2 separate regions of the Homo sapiens genome follow, and region 2 is linked to region 1. A link means that fine-mapping ties the variant in region 1 to the expression of a gene that starts in the linked region. Tissue or cell type: lung. Region 1 holds a variant in brackets; the other region holds the start of a gene. All regions are shown on one strand. Distances are from middle to middle.

What was found. PIP is the estimated chance that this variant, and not a neighbour inherited with it, causes the effect.
Region 2: it holds the start of LARP4B, and the variant in region 1 is fine-mapped to the expression of LARP4B in lung (TOPMed, PIP 0.91).

Annotation. Positions count from the first base shown.
Region 1 is chr10:813,966-818,616 of GRCh38, reverse strand. It overlaps LARP4B (La ribonucleoprotein 4B), which reads left to right. Exons shown (of 18, transcript NM_015155.3): 15 at 728-892; 16 at 3,547-3,671; 17 at 3,767-3,875. Among named protein-coding and RNA genes, the nearest start is that of LARP4B, 120 kb to the left of the region's middle. RefSeq lists enhancers at 3,404-3,904, 3,905-4,405. The variant A/G (reference allele first, on the strand shown) is at 2,510.
Region 2 is chr10:928,884-933,534 of GRCh38, reverse strand. It overlaps LARP4B (La ribonucleoprotein 4B), which reads left to right and starts at 1,830. Exons shown (of 18, transcript NM_015155.3): 1 at 1,830-2,107. LOC124902363 (keratinocyte proline-rich protein-like) reads right to left here and starts at 1,544. Exons shown (of 2, transcript XM_047426111.1): 1 at 420-1,544. The coding sequence starts at 1,408. The coding sequence ends at 704. It overlaps LARP4B-DT (LARP4B divergent transcript), which reads right to left and starts at 509. Exons shown (of 3, transcript NR_120629.1): 1 at 420-509. RefSeq lists silencers at 1,250-1,339, 1,420-2,129, 2,200-2,309, 2,340-2,419, 2,510-2,639.

The sequences.
Region 1 (4,651 bases):
ATTTTCCAATAAAAGGTATTACTGCCTTTCTTCTGAGATTTGGGCTTACAAAGTACACTCACTTCTTATTATACTGAGTTTGCTTTCTTGGAAGTCAAAGAATCTGATTAGAATTTGTTGTCAAATCCTGTGTTTTTAATTATTTAAAAATATAAACTTTCATTAAGTTTATTTTCAGAGAATTCGAGCCCCCTTCCCTTTTGTTAAACCACTTTTTTGATGCACGTGTGTAAAATTTCTTACACAGGTTGTGGAGAGAGTGTCATATTTTGTTTTTTACAATTATCTTGTGACTCACATTAAAAACTATGCTGTAGTAACACAACACTTGTCTGAAAGTGAGAAAGTTTAATGTCTAGACTCAGGCTGCCCTGCTTTCCATCTGGTGGGCTGGAGTCACTCCAGAGTGTCTCCCTTGCCTTCAGCTGCCCCTGCTGTTCGTGAGTGCTGGCAGCCATGGGTGGATAGCTCTTTGGATGTCACCTTAGCCTCACTGTGTCCTTTGTGACACATCTCTTGGGCAGCAGCATCCTTGAGATTTCAGTTTTACAGCTCTGCTCTAGATGGTTGAAGTTGCTTGGGAGAACCTTCAATTGAGTGAGGAAGCCCTTGTCTGGGTTGAATGATCTGCTTGTTTCTACAGATATTTTCCAGACAGGTGTGGAAACGAGAAGCTGCTTGGCCTTCTCTCTCCATACCGTGACCCTGGGGTGTCATTCTGTTGCAGAGCAGCCAGACACAGTCTCCAACGCCACCAAAGCCTCCGTCGCCAAGCTTCGAGCTGGGGCTGTCCAGCTTCCCTCCATTACCTGGAGCTGCCGGCAATTTGAAGACAGAGGACTTGTTTGAAAACAGGCTATCTAGCTTGATAATAGGACCATCCAAAGAAAGGGTAAGGGATATATTGCATGTCTAATAGTTGCCAACAGTGTCTAGGTACGGGTTCCGTGTCAGGCGCTTTGCTGAGCTCTTTATACATGTTTGTTTTTAATACTCAAGAGAGGCTTGGAGGCCACGTGATTGCAGAGGTCACACAGATTTGGAGTAAGGCCAGCCTTGAACCCAGGGCTGGGCCTTCTCCTTAACATTGCTGTCTGATGAAGTCAGAGGTAGAAACGTGTGCCATGATGTGCCGTACACACCCTTTCTCTCACCCAGAAACTTAGATTGCATTGTCATTGTTGTAGTTCAGACCTGCCTTTATTTTATAAAACAACAGAATGAAATGGAAACATCTGAATTGTATTGGAAATGATTAAAATGTGTAGTAATCTACATGAGACAAGGAGCAAGAAGCCTGGGAGAACCTCACTGTAGTGTCGGTAGCTTCTGGTGAGGTCTGGGCTGCCCCACGAGGTGCCGCCTCCACTGCAGTGAATATCATCCCAGGAGTCGTCCCGAGCTGCAGATGACAGAGGACACTCAGCCCAGCACTCTGGCCTCTAATGTGCTTAGGAGGTGGAAGTGGGACTTGGCCGGCTGCCACACCTGGCGTTGAAGGCTCTGGGAAGTACAGAGGAAGTTTTCTGCCCAGTTACCTACTGTGCATAGGAAGAGCCCAGGAAGAACCTGCTGAGCACTCCAGGTTGCCGGTGTCCCCTGTGCCAGGGGCCCTTTCCCCAGCTGTGCCCCAGAGTTACCACGTGTCTGTTCCACGCCACATGACCGTGCTGCTTGCTACCCCACCCAGGTCTGCAGAGTCAGTGTCTCTTCCACCCTGGGCTTTAGGGAAGGCCCCGCAGTAGATAGAACCATTCCTCACTTCCTAGGGCAGAATTTAAGGTGGATTTTGATGCAGTATCTTTACAATGAAAGCCAGGTGACGTGTCTAGTCCTTTTCATATTGGTAGATGGTCATGCTCCTGTTTGGAGATTGAGTACATTCCAGGATTGTCACATTAGCCTTAAATTTCCACACCGTCATTTCTAAGGTATTAGTGCCTTGAGAAGAAATGCAGTTTAAAGATCATGAATTCTAGTTTTCCAACTGTAGCCTACTCCCGTTGGTATTGAGTGGAGGAGAAGAGGCAGGTCTCCAACCCTGCTTCAGAAACAGCAGCTCCTGCTGTGCCCAGTTTGAGTCTTGTGTAAGGTTTCTCTTGAAGAAAGAATTGCTTCTTTGAAAAGCCTGACCCTGAGCCTTATGCCACCACCCAGGTGTAGTGGGCTCCATTGCTGCTTCTTGGGAGCTTCTTGAGTCAACAGCGTGGCCCTTGGGTTTCAAAGTGGGGTGGAGGCTCCAGAAATGATGGGGTTCAGCCCTTCCCCTGTTGACATGGAGCTCGTGATGGTCACTCTGACTTGCTTCATGACCTGCAGTTGTGGATCTGCATTTCATTTGCATTGGGACTGCACATATCCTGAATTAATTAGTTAATTTGTTTATTTAAGATAGAGTCTTGCTCTGTCACCCAGGCTGGAATGCAGTGGCACGACCTTGGCTCCCTGCAACCTCCGCCTCCTGGGTTCCAGTGATTCTCCTGCCTCGGCCTACCGAGTAGCTGGGACT[A/G]CAGGCATGCACCACCACACCCGGCTAATTTTTGTATTATTAGTAGAGATGGGGTTTCACCATGTTGGCCAGGCTGGCCTCAAACCCCTGACCTCAGGTGATTCGTCCACCTCAGCCTCCCAAAATGCGGGGATTATAGGCGTGAGCCACCGTGCCCGGCCCCTACCCTGAATTTAAAATGAGCTTTTACAAAAGGAGTCCTTTGCCCTCTTGTTTCCACCAAGCTGGATTCCTGCTGGTCGAGCGCAGGAATTGCAGCGGATTCTGGTTCTCCAGCTGGAAGGGCTCTAGGTCTGTCGTCAGCCTTCATCTAAGGGCAGAAGTGTAAAGAGCACCTGCCCTCCTGCCTTTTTTAAGTTGCATGACAAGTGTATCATCACATGCCATATGTATAAGATCAAGCACACATGAAATAGCCCCTGCACAGGGGTCGCTGGCTGGAGTAAGGAGGGAGTAAGTTTCACTCCGTCCTTTGCTTCCTGGCCTTGGGCAAATTAACTTAGAGGTATTGGGCCTCAGTTTCCTCACCTGTTGAGATGGGGGCATTCGCACACCTGCTTCCTGGGGTTGTGAATTCAGGGAGGGCTGGGAGCTCACATTTATATGGGTGTGGAGGCGCCGATTGTTTTTTCTCAGCGGTGTGAATGAGTTGTGTTGGACTGTGTTAGGATTCGACACTCAGCAGATATGCATGTGGTGTTGTGCCGTGCCGTGCTGGGCCCAAAGTGCCAGGTGGGTGAGATGTGTTTGATGCCTGTTCAGTTAAGAAATAAGCTTGTAGATCATCATTGCGGGAGAGGAGATAAGGGCCTGTGATGTAAGAACAGTGGGGCATTTGCCGAGAAAGAGAAGGGTGGGCGATCTGTGGGGCAGAGGATAGTCCTGGGCTCTGTGACATTTTTGCTGGAGAAGACCCTCTTCCCCTATGTCCTTGTGCTGCTCTCCCAAGGCTGTTCACGGGTGGGGTGAACGGGCACTGGTACCAGCTCCGCTTAGTGCCGGCAGGACTCTGATGAACACTCTTGACCCTGTTTCAGACCCTCAGTGCAGACGCAAGCGTGAACACCCTTCCTGTAGTGGTCTCCAGAGAGCCCTCGGTGCCGGCTTCTTGTGCTGTATCAGCAACGTACGAGCGATCCCCCTCCCCAGCTCATTTACCCGAGTGAGTATTGGTGTTCTTCCAGCGCCTTGGTGTTGACTGACTTGAATGGCCTGTGATGTTGCATGAGATTCAAATATCGGGTGGCATTTTTACAGTGATCCCAAGGTGGCGGAGAAACAGAGGGAAACCCACAGTGTGGACAGACTTCCTTCCGCCCTCACTGCGACCGCGTGTAAATCGGTGCAGGTGAACGGAGCCGCCACGGTACGTACCTCGTGCCTGCCTTCCTGCACGACAGCCGCGAGGCTCTGGTGTGAACAGACGCTGCGCACTCCTGCACCTGCTCGTTTTTTAATCACATCTAATTTGGTGGGTTTTTATTTGCGTCTGTCTGTGTTGTGTTTTCTGTACAAAATACCTTTAATATTTGCTAATAATTTTCCACTAACTACTCTAGTTCTTTCTCAGACCACCATGTAGTCCTTTTATTTCAGTGTTGGTCAATAGAGGTTTCTTGAGTAGTAACAAGACCCCAGCTCCTGTTTCTCCATAGACTTTAGGATCATTTCAGCATTTCGCGCGTGTGTGTATGTTTGCGTGCGTGCGCGCGCATCGTGTGTCTGATGAAGAGACAGGAAGAGCAAGATGGTGGCCCCACCAGCCTCCAACCCCTGTGGGCCCAGCAGGCCTGAACCCCAGCGACTTCCTTTCTGCTGTTTTCCCTACTGGGTGAACTGTGGCCTCTCTTACTCTGAGTTGTGGCCTCTGTAGTTTGATCTTGGGGGAGCCTTTTCCTTGAATTTGGGAGTTTAATCCCTTACTGTCCCCTGGGCTGAGTCTAAAAAAGGATTTTTTATAGGTTAAAATTAATAATTTTAATAATAAATAATAATAATAATAAAAGAGGCCAGGTGCTGTGGCTCACGCCTGTAATCCCAGCACTTTGGGAGGCCGAGGTAGGCAGATCATGCGGTCAGGAGATCCAGACAGTCCTGAACAACATGGTGAAACCCTGTCTCTACTGAAAATACAAAAAATTA
Region 2 (4,651 bases), 110 kb before region 1:
AAGGTTTCACAAAGAAGGCACCCAACCTTGATGTCAACAGTCTACCCACTATGGGAAGCCGGAGAGGCTTTCTTCCAAAATGCAGAATTGTCAGCATTTGAACGCTGAGTACGAAAAATTATAAGCACAGGCTGGGTACACCGGCTCCCATCTCTAATCCCAGATTTTGGGGGCCCGAGACAGCACTCTGAGCTCAGAGTGCAGACCTGCATAGAGCAAGACCCTGTATCAAAAAACAAAATTAAAAAAGCAGTTGTAAGCACAGGTACACGGTTAACCATGAATATGGTATCCCTGAAAAGCCGTTTTAATGGGGGAACAAACCTAAAATTTGGAATAATTGATAATATGTGTATATGTAGCCAATCAGAGCAGAAACCAGAAAATCAGGCAGCAAGCTTAAGGGAAACGCAACATACTTTGTTTGGTTTCCTTTTCTTCCATAAACTGATCAGGGGTAGGTAGAGTATGCTGCTATAGTTCGGAGTCGTCACCATCCTCACGGAAACGGCAGGAGTGTGAACACCTCCCTGAGCTACCAAGAGCATCTGACTCGTTGCAACGTGGGCCCGAACCCAGCGCCTCTAGGAAACGTGGGGCCGGGGCCTTTTGGTCCCGGGTGTGGGTTGGGGGTTTGGGGAAGGGCCGGGGCCTTGATCCCAGGTGTGGGGTTGGGGATTCCGGGGCTGAGCCGAGGCCTTGGTTAGGGGTGTGGGGCGGGGGTTCGGGGCAGTGCCGGGGCCTTGGTCCCGGGTGTGGGGTTGGGACTTCGGGGCCGGGACCTTCGTCTCAGGTGTGGGGCGGGAGTTCGGGACAGGGCTGGGGCCTGGGTCCCTGGTGGGGCGTTCGGGGCAGTGCCGGGGCCTTGGTCCCGGGTGTGGGGTGGGAGTTTGGGGCAGGGCCGGGGCCTGGGTCCCGGGTGGGGCGTTCGGGGCAGGGCCGGGGCCTTGGTCCCGGGTGTGGGGTGGGAGTTTGGGGCAGGGCCGGGGCCTGGGTCCCCGGTGGGGCCTTCGGGGCAGGGCCGGGGCCTTGGTCCCGGGTGTGGGGTGGGAGTTCTGGGCAGGGCCGGGGCCTTGGTCCCGGGTGTGGGGTGGGAGTTCTGGGCAGGGCCGGGGCCTTGGTCCCGGGGGTGGGGTGAGGGGTTCGGGGCAGGGCCGGGGCCTTGGTCCCGGGTGTGGGGTGGGAGTTCGGGGCAGGGCCGGGGCCTGGGTCCCGGGTGTGGGGTGAGGTGTTCCGGGCAGGGCCGGGACCTTGATCCCAGCTGTGGGGTGGGAGTTCGGGGAAGGGCCAGGGCGTGTCCTGGGTGGCCAGGGTCGGGGCCTGGGTCCTGGGGGTGGGATGAGGGGTTCGGGGCAGGGCCGGGGCCTTGGTCCAGGGTCTGGGGACAGGCTAGGGCCGGGGTCGCCATCCGTCCTGGGCGGCGGGCAGGGGTCTTTAAGGGGCGCACGCGGTGGCGGAGGACCAGGGCCCAGCCCTCCGGAAGTCAGGGCCCACACGGCCCCCCAGCGTCAGGCGCTCCGGTCGCGCCGGGGACGGCGGGCGGGGCGGGCGGGGCGGGCGGGGCGGACGTGCGGCGTGCGCGGGGCGGGGCGATGTGCGCGCACGCGCCAATCGCAAGGCCGCGAGCAGGGTGTACGCGCGGAGAGGCCAAGAAGGCGGCGGGGCGGGCCGAGCGTCGGGTGCGCCCAATCAGCGCGCCGCAACACCATGACGTGAGGCTCTCCCGGGGCTGAGCGCCAGTCCGCGGGACCGGCGGGTGAGTGCGCGAGTTCAGGGCGCGAGGCGCGGGTCCGCGCGGGGGCGGGACTTCCGCAGGGCCCCGGAAGTGGGAGCTGTGTGTTCTCATGCGAACGGGAAGGAGCGTTGGGGATCTGGAGTCCCGGGGTTGAGACATTTTCGGGCCCGAAAGGGGAAGAATCCGCCGCCGCCGCCGCCGCCAGCTCGCGCCCGCCCTCTCCCCTACCTCCGGCCCGGCCCGGCCCGGCCGCGCCGCCTCTCCCTGCCGTCTCTCTCCTCGCCGTCCCCGCGTGTGGCGCGGCCGCCGGGCCCCGGGGTTGAGGCGAGGAGCCCGCGGGCGGCCGGTCGGGCGGGGCGGCGGCGCTGACAGGTGAGGCACCCTGGGCCGCGGCGGGCCGTCCCTCCCGGCCCAGCTCGGACCCGCGCCGCGCCGCCTGTCACTGCGCCGCCATCTTCCCGGAGGACGCGGCCGCGGCGGGCAGGGCCGGGCCTGGGCCGGGGCCGGGGCCGGGGCAGGGGAAGGCCGGGGCCGGGTTGAGGAGGACCGGGGCTAGGGCACGGGAAGGGCCAGGGCTGAGGAGGACCGGGGTCAGGGCCAGGAAAAAGCCGGGGCTGAGGAGGACCGGGGCCGGGGCAGGGGAAAACTGGGGCTGAGGATGGCCGAGGCCGGGGCAGGGGAAGGCCGGGGCCGGGGCTTAGGAGGACCCGTTGAGGCGAGGCGGGAGTCGACGGAGCTGGGTGCCCGGAAGACCGGGCCGGGGTCAGGGTCGGGAGGCCGGGGTTGGGCGAAGGCCGGCGAGGACGGGGGTCGGGCAGGGCCTGGGCGGGGCCGGGGTCGCGGGCCGCGAGCGCCCCCAGGCCGGGCGGGCGCCGGCACCCGCAGTGCGGCGCCAGCCTTGCCACTCGCTCCTCGGTCCCGCCGGAGCCCGGATAGGCGGCCGTGCGGGTGCGGGGCGGGACGGGTCATCAGGGCATCGCATTCCTTTAGAACCAGGAAGTTGGGATCCTGTTGCTCGGTGTGTGTTTGGAACGCTCCTGTTTTCCTGTTGATAGACTTGAGCAGAGGTGGATCTGAAGGAGTTAAAAAAATAAAGTCAGATGTGAAGATTGCCTGTGTTGGTCTTGGGGCTGGGATACATGGGCGGCAGAGAAGCCATCGGAAAGCTGCTGCACCTGCCTCTCAGGGTGCGCTTGGGAACGTGAAGAGTCTTTCCGTTTCAGTGCCGTTGTGCGTCGAAACTTCATGCGAATGTAATTTTGCTTTTCCCCTTATTTTTACGTAAAACGTTCTTAAAACTTGGCTGAGATGAAACTTGAGAAACCTAGCTGTAGAAAACTACCTCCTATCTGGCTTTCGTTTGAGATTCTCTAAGTGGATGCCCAATAACTTGTCTTAATAGTAAATTGGAAGTTTGAAGTTTTGGATAACTGAGAAAACAGGAAGGTTTTCCTTGACAGGGCAGTGGAGTTTGTAAGTATAAACAGTATGCGTGAGGCCTTTTTCTAGAGATGAGAGCAACTCCAAGGTGAACATTGAAGGGGACAGACAAGTTATTTTCCCTTTCGAAAGTTTTTTTCTCTTAGTTTCAGTTGTTTGAATATTTAAATGCACTTGAAATAGGTGCTGAGTTGTAGTTTGTGAAGACCACAGTGGGGAAGAGTGGTGTCCTCTTTTTTCTTGGTGGTCAGGTGGTGTGTGCAGTGTGCAATTTCCATACTTCCCCAACCTGCCTGGCGCCCCTCATTACAGTCAGGGTAATTTACAGAAGTTGAAATCGTTGTGGCTTTTCAGTTTTTTCTCCTTGTATTTAATATGCTGAAAGGCAGTTTTGTAATCAAACCATATAAGAAATAGCTTAATTGAGGTTTGCTAAGTGAAATGCGTTCCGAAAGGCATCAGATTAACAAGCTTATTATTTAATCATAAATTTAATTTGTGTACTTATCTTTGAAACTTGCATTGGTTAGAAATAAATTTTATCCGGTATTTTGAAAAGTTAATGTGAGTTGAGTTGACTTATTTATATGAAACAAAGGCATGGCTTATTCATTAGAAGTTACCCTCGTGTTGCCTACATTTTCTCAATTGTAACAGGGGGATGATGATAATCTCATTTTCTTAGGACTGTTGTAACACAAACATGGAAATGTTGTCTGGTTTTGCTATTTTCACTATTACTGATTTTTTTCTTCCCCCCCCGAGTTGGAGTCTTGTTCTGTCACCCAGGATGGAGTGCAGTGACACGATCTCAACTCACTACAACCTCCACCTCCTAGGTCTTCAAGTTATTCTCCTGCCTCAGCCCCCCGAGTAGCTGGGATTTACAGGCACATGCCACCACACCTGGCTAATTTTTGTATTTTTAGTAGAGACGGGGTTTCAGCATGTTGCCCAGGCTGGTCTCGAACTCCTGGCCTCAAGTGATCCACCTGCCTTGGCCTCTCAAAGTGTTGGGATTACAGGAGTGAGCCACTGCGCCCAGCTTACTGAATTTTTAAAATATTCTACCTTGTAGCTGTCAATCTATTAGCAGAAAGTTTTGTTTTTGTTTTTGTTTTTTTGTTTTGTTTTTTTTGGCTTGTTTACACATGTATCTGGGCAGAGAAAACAGCTTCTGAGCACAGAATGCATATTTGGAGAAAGCAGTTCCACTCTTTTTGAGTAGGAACCAGACAGAAAAAAAGATAACATGGGTACTATTCTGTAGAAGAGTAGCTGAAATTAAGTGGCAGCAAATTCAGGGAGAAATGTAATTTGGTTTAATGTTCGGGAAGATTGCCATTTTTAAAAGTGAGATTTAAAGAATTTATTGAATTTAATGCAATTTCCATAAGTAAGCACAAGTTTTGACAAGTATATATTTAAGGTGTTTTTATGAAGCAGTCTTCACATTATCTTAAAATGTAGTTCTAA